2 linked regions of the Homo sapiens genome follow. The protein of the gene in region 1 interacts with the protein of each later gene in a pairwise test. Each region holds a gene or a part of one and is shown on either strand. Other genes may lie near its edges.

The links.
Region 2: the proteins of PLAAT1 (region 1) and POU6F2 interact in binary tests that used the Homo sapiens proteins (3 or more experiments, as listed by UniProt).

Annotation. Positions count from the first base shown.
Region 1 is NC_000003.12:193,267,972-193,271,366, reverse strand, and holds the end of PLAAT1 (phospholipase A and acyltransferase 1), read right to left. Parts: intron 764-3,395; coding exon 662-763; 3' UTR 512-661; downstream 1-511. UniProt on the Homo sapiens protein: Exhibits both phospholipase A1/2 and acyltransferase activities. Shows phospholipase A1 (PLA1) and A2 (PLA2) activity, catalyzing the calcium-independent release of fatty acids from the sn-1 or sn-2 position of glycerophospholipids.
Region 2 is NC_000007.14:39,337,724-39,341,551, forward strand, and holds part of POU6F2 (POU domain, class 6, transcription factor 2), read left to right. Parts: exon of another isoform or gene 1-1,397; intron 1,398-1,918; coding exon 1,919-2,292; intron 2,293-3,828. UniProt on the Homo sapiens protein: Probable transcription factor likely to be involved in early steps in the differentiation of amacrine and ganglion cells. Recognizes and binds to the DNA sequence 5'-ATGCAAAT-3'. Isoform 1 does not bind DNA.

The sequences.
Region 1 (3,395 bases):
AATAATATGTAACACTGTAGAAATAACAGCCCACTCTTACTTGTCATGTCCTCCTGACAAGCAAGTAGATTCCACACAAATCACCGGAACTGAAACCCTGGAGCAAACAGCCTCTCCTCTTCCCATCCACCCTCATCTACACAGGCAGGAAGAAGATGAGGGTGCATTCCCCAAAAGGCTTGTAAATTAGAGTCCCTCAAACTGCCTAACCAAAATGCTAAATTTCCCAGTTTCTTTTCCAACAAGAAAAGAAACATGAATTTGGATGTCAACTCTTAACAATCTGGGGTTCTTAAAATTTCTTTCAAAACCATATATAAATAGTCTTTCATGCCTCTGGCAAAATGGCCACCCTTGGGGAAAAGGAAAATAATATTTATAGTAGAAATAAAATGTGATGAGATTTTGTTAAGATCTTCTGCTGGCTCACTCAAAAGACTACTGCTTCTCCGTTCAAGCTGCCACAGTACATCTATGCTAGCAGGGGAAAAAAATTTCATTGGCTCAATGATAAGATAATATCAGTAAGCAATTTATTAAAGAGTCTGCCATCCATCATAGGAATCTGGAACAGTAATGATGCACTGAAAATAAGTATTCACCCCAGGTTTCTTTTCCTCCTCCCAAATTCCTTCAATATCAATATCTCTTTGGTAAATTGTTAATAGTATTTTGCTCTTTGTCCTTTTGGAAACAAGCCCAGGAATGAGAAGACACCAACAGCAGCTGTCACAAACTCAACGGTACTTATCGCTCGGTTGGCCTATAAGGAAACAAGAAGTAAACAAAAAACACATCATATTCTAAAGACATCTGTGTCCTAAATGAAGCTTTAGCCTGTTTCCTAAACTGAACACCTGTTTTAATGTACAATGGATACATCTAAAGTACAATGCAAAATTAAAATTCTGCATAAAGATGAAGAAATAAATTTATAATTTGTATAATTATGTCAAAGATGTAGATACGTACACATGGGTATATATTCCTCATATTTTTAAAGCACTCTGACAGTTTATAAACTAATTATGAACACAGTTCCCATTCATCATAATAGTACACTGGTGAAAGAGGTTAATATACCACTCTTGTTTTGCAAAACTTGGGATATCATAAGTAGTTTGCCTGAGATCATTCCACGAAGATGTTTAAAGATAGGCTGAGTCTTCTGAAACACACGTTCTTCTCCTATGCAGCTCCTGCCCCTTAAATAAACACTTTGGATTGGTTGGGTCTACACCAAAGTAAGTATCGTGTAAGAGTGTGTGTGTGTGTGTGTGTGTGTGTGTGTGTGTGTTTCAGGGATGTCAAATAGCAAATAATTCAGGGATGTCATCTGAGCTAAATACACATAAGCTCTTATTTGGTAGACACAATTTCTTTTCTGATAAACAAATTTCAAAAAAAGCCAATACTGATGTTAACTATCATGTCAAAAATTAATTTCTCATGTAGACAAACCACTCTCAAGATCAACTGTCCATAAAGGAATTCAGACATTTATAGCTTTAAGGGTATTAATCATCATGATGATGAGAGAACTAATGAATATTCATGGTATTCTTGGCACTCAACTAATATTGCCTTCCATTCAAATGGGTTTGAGTGCAATTTGATGACCCAAAGGTCACATTCGGACACTTCAGAATTATCAAGTACTCTGAAAACATATTTGTTCTCTCTGGGATTGAAGAATCAGGTCTTTCAAATAAAGCAAAATATTTTTCCCAAATGACTCTGGGGAACCAGTCTAAGAGCTGGAAAGCCTAACCCAGGTCATATTTGAGCATGCCCTCTGTCTAACCACAGCCTTCCACCGTGGAACCTGCCACCCACGTATTACTGCAACACAATGCTACCTCCCTAACTGCAGCTTCCCTGTTAGGAACAGGCACAAGGGCCAGGGCCAGGAAAGAGGGACACAACAGAAGTCTTGGCTCCATGTGTTTGCAGCATGTGTTCATTCCACTACACCATCCTGTGGTGGGCAGAGACTAGGCCTGTAATTGTGGCCCACTGTCTCTGCTCCAACCCCCAGATGCCAGGGAGAATGGTAAGGGCAAACAACTTGGCACTAACCCTGAAAAATCCTGTTTTACTTTATAATTTTGATTTTATTTGATTTCTTATCTATTTTATTTATATTTTAATCCTTACCTAAACTATTTCCTAAGAGATAATCAGAATTCACTGTAGCACAGAGCCACCCATATGCCATATTGGGGGAGCGGGGGAGAAGAGGCAGGGAGATGCAGGATATAAGATAAAATCCCAAAGAAGAGGAAGAGTCACTAATTAGACAGGGATCAAGCCCAACCCTAGTACAATTCCAGCAGATAGTGAGATCCCAAGAAGGTCTAATAGAGAGAAATGGGGTAGTCAATAAAAAAAAAATGAAGGTGCAATCAGTGTCTTTAAACAGAGGTGTCAAATGGTAGCAGGGTACGGCCCTTGGAAAATGGCAGGATCCTATAGATGGTGTGGCCCCAGCTAGATGCAGACCTAACTGACTAGGTATCTTTCAGCCACTAGAAACACAAGATGTTAATGAAAGCTGACAAATTTAAGAGGCCTGGTTGGGGGATGGGCAACCTGATCCCAAACCAAAATCCCTAGAGATGACAAAGGCCAGATATCATGATCATAAAGCCACTTTAAGCAGTGCCACTTTAAGACAGCTTCCCCAATTCCAAATGTTCATTTATTTCAAGTCTCATTCTAGATAATGAATCTCATGTAATTGGGACAACCCACTGGAGTTAGGAGTAATGGGATGTGATGTGCAAGATTACAACATCTCAGGATGTTCTTGGTGAACCAACATGAACAAGAACTTTTACTTCACGGCTTACTTTGGATTATAAGGTCACCAAATCCAACTCTGCATTCTTTATCCTTTAGAGGGCTTTCTGTCCATGGGCCATAATAAAGGCCTCGTTCTGGGGATCTGTACCTGGCCTAATGAAACATTAGCTGAACCTGGAGTGGCTGTGTCTAGACAGCAGTATAGCGGGGACACAGACGTGTGGCAGGTTTATCAAAACGCTCTTTCCTAAGGCCTCGTAAGGCTGCAGTCATATGCACCGAAGCACCATCAGGATGTGTTCCTGTGTTGCCTTGTCCAGGCCTACTGAAGAGTGTGGGCCATCTTTGACAAAGATAGAGATATTTTCATAATTTGGTCTATGAGAGTAAAGTATGTTCTTAGAAATTTTGAAAAATACATAAAAGATAAGACACAAACTGAGAGAAAACAACTGTAAAAGACAAATCTGATAAAAGTGTTTTCTAAAATATATAAAGAACTCTTGAAATTCAACAATAGGAAAATGAACAGCTGAATTAAAAAGTAGGCAAGGTCATCAAGAGATACATCATCAAAGATGATATGCAAA
Region 2 (3,828 bases), on another chromosome or scaffold:
CTTTCCTTTGCATCTGGTGTATACCTGAACATATTTAATTCTGTATTATTTTTTGCTTGCAGATGTCAAATTAGTCTATGTAACTCAAAGGCTTAGGTTTATGCCTTTCCAGTCAAGCTGCTGTTATGGAAAACAAATACCCAAGCAATATGAACTTACGGATATGGAGGAAGGGAGACATATTTGGGACCAAGGCTCATTAGTAGGTTAGGGTCTGCTGTACCTACCCGTCTGCCAACATCTATCTGCCAATATTCCCAGACTTTCCTGTTTCTAAATGCTGATTTAGATAAATGCTTTTCTAACCAAAATGAAGCAGTATGGTATTTAAGTCAACCATGGAAATAAGCATTAACATATGTGCCCCCACCTGAAAGACATCAGGTTAGGTTCGATTTGAATCAGGCAGGAGGCCAGATGCAATCAAGTCCCTGAAGTCTGGAACTCCACCAGAAGAAGAGATCAGGCTCCCCTGCCCCAGGATCCTCCAGACTGCAGAAGATCTAGGGAGGTCAGAATAGAGCAGGGCTCCCACATCTTTGATAAAATGTGATTTTGTAAACTAGAAGAAAGGGGGAAATGGCAAAAGCAGGCCTTTCTCTAAAAGGTCTAATAAACGGGATGATGCCGGGGTACTTTCCAGGCCTCCCTCATGCCATCTCTATCTCTACGATTACATCACAAGCCCCAGAACACCCTGGCTCTACACGCAAGGCAGGCCACACACTGGACTGCTTGCATAGACCTAGAGCAGTTCAGTGGCTCAGTGAGGACTTGCTATCCCAACTGGACCAAGTTGGAAGCCCTACATGGTATGTGAGATCACAGAATTGGTATTTGATACCCCTGGAAATGGTTGCATCGTCATTTCACCAATACAGCTACACTTTCCTCTAAGGCCTGTGGGTTTGACATTGATCCTTATATGTTTATTTGTTCATGGGCTTGTTAGAAAGCTTTTAGATTGAGATTTAGGCAAAAAAGAAAGTGAACTTGGTTTTTAGCCGTAAATTTCTCTAGACCATTCTTAGGTCAAACTAACCAGCTTCCTTCTGCAGAAATTGTTCAGTGCTACATGGGCATGTGAGAACAAATTTTGCGTGCTCAGTGCTAAGACACTTTCTCCCACCAACTCTACCTTTCTCATAACAAGATCTTAAAAGATGATTTCATTCCCTCAGTCCTTAGGTGCTGTCCTGTCCTCAGGTGCTGATGTCTAATCACCACACTGTTTGGTTCAGTCACCTGCTATCATCCCTCCAGTTTAGGGGTTCTGTCTCTTTAATCAGCAGGCAAAAAATTCAGACTCAGGCTTTTGACCCTGCAAAATGGAGAAGCATGTACTGCTTTTGAATTTTTAAAAAAAAAAAAAAACAGTTAGAAATTTGACACTAAGACATCTAAGCAACTGGGTGGAGATCTGAAGTAGCAAGTGAAAATGATACCATTAATGATATTGATGATGGATGTAAAGGCAATTGCAAACAATTGGTTTTTTGTTCTTAACTCCAGTCAAACACTTACCAAAACAACTAAACTGGTTGGACTTCAACAATCTAAATGAAATCTTGAAGCATGAATGTATTTCCCATGCAGTATGGAAAGGAAGAGAGAGAGAAAGTAGTTAAAAAACAATCTCCATTCCTACCACACACCTTTGGCTTGCATTGTTCACCACCTTTTAAAGTAATGCCTGATGTGTTATATGCTGGTCCTCCAGAAATTCTAAACTTTCCCCAGAAGTGACCTTTGTTCTCCCAGTGCCTCACAACACTCTTAAATACCAAAGAGCTTCAGGGGGCAAGGACAAGAATTTTCTAAAGGAAACCCTTCTCCACTTGCACTGGACAGGCTGTCAAGACCCAGCAAGACACTTTGTCATGTTATCTCACTCCACATTCGCTTTCTCTCCTTGTAGCTACCTCATCCCTGAACTCCCAGCTCCAGCAGCTCCAGCTCCAGCTCCAGCAGCAGCAGCAGCAGCAGCAGCAGCAGCCTCCCCCGTCAACCAACCAGCACCCGCAACCAGCCCCACAGGCGCCCTCGCAGTCCCAGCAGCAGCCGCTGCAGCCCACCCCACCCCAGCAGCCACCACCCGCCTCTCAGCAGCCGCCAGCTCCTACATCTCAGCTGCAACAGGCGCCTCAGCCCCAGCAGCACCAACCCCACTCCCACTCCCAGAACCAGAACCAACCATCTCCAACCCAGCAGAGCTCCAGCCCCCCGCAGAAACCTAGTCAGTCTCCAGGACATGGCCTGCCTTCACCGCTCACGCCACCCAATCCTCTACAGGTATGCTCCCCGTGCTTCCCGTCTGCCCCTAGGAGCACCAAGGACCTTTCCATGGGGTGGTGCCATCCCCAAAGGCAGAGGGACCACACAAAACTTAGCATCCAGTTCTGCAGCATCTAATTCAAATTGATCTCTTAGACATAGGGAAGAAGAAGCAACTAGAAGGCAACTGGGGATGCATGTAAACGAAACAAATAGAAGCCCATTTCTGTTGCCCTCCAAAGGATAAATGTTATCTGTTTCCTTCTGTGAGAGGCCAGCACTATAAGTGCATTTGGAGCCTGTAATAATTCCATTTTATGATACTTTTTGAAGGCAGCAAAGATAGCATCCAATTAAAATTATTACTAGCACAGTTTTGTAGCCCCATGGAGAACTGCATCTACTGTCCATGAGGCATGGTGGTTATTTCTCTATATTATGAATACAACAGTGTCTCACCTTAAGTACTTTGTGCTCTTTTGTTTCTATTTTTCTAAAGACTCTCTGGGGTTAGGAGGGCAAAGAAATTTAGCCCCAGTCTTATGTCCCAGATTCCAACCATTACTCCACAGACTAACAAGTACTCTAAATTCATGCCAAGAGCCTCAACCAATATGCATCTTTATAAAGGAATAAAACTTCTATAGGTTTACTTTATTACTGTGAGGCTGAGAGCTTCATAAATAGATATTTCAGGCTAACCATGAGAGCTCATCTATAACCTACCTATTGAGAAGGAATGGATAGGTGCATTCATATATATATATATATATATATGACTTTAAACTTCAGAAAACCATTTTTAACTTAGGTGTCTTTAAAATAAATTAGCTTCAAAACATAATGACTGTGATGTCATCATATCAGATCCAGAAATTAATAACTCAGCCAAGCCATCCATTCTTTGACTTGCACAATGACATTTTTCCCTGTGAGATTTCAGACAATCTCGTGTATTTGTAGTACTGTGACAAAGTTAAACAGAGTGAGCAGCCTGTGGACCTGTTTCAAGTGCCATCTCATCCCCTTGCCATAGTGGTGGGTATAAACCTCAGTCAGTCCGGCTCTCCCCAGCCTGAGAATGACAGTAGCGATGGTATCCTTGGCTCCTAAATAGAAAAGTATACAAAATAAAGACAGGTTGGTACACGGACAGAAAGGCAGGTGGATTAGAGACTTGGTATTTTAGAACTTAGTTTGTTGTCCCATAGCTTTGTCTCTTCCAATTTGGATTCTCAGTGGTGTGGCCCAAAGCATTCCTAGAAATGAACACATTTGGGAGAGATGAGTCATTGTGTTTTTCTGGGCTCTTGGGCCAGGGCTACTTTCAATTTGAACATTTTCATGAGTGGAGTTTCAAGATGTATTTATACAATTCTTACGATGGTGAGACAACGTAACACCTTTGACCTAGGACTAAAATGAACATGGTCCAAAAACGTCTTCATTGTCCACTTGACACCTACTGAAAGAGCAGGTGTCATCAAATTTACAGAAGGCATGATTACAGCAACCTTAATGTTGGCAGCATTTGGGATTCAACTTTATTATTCC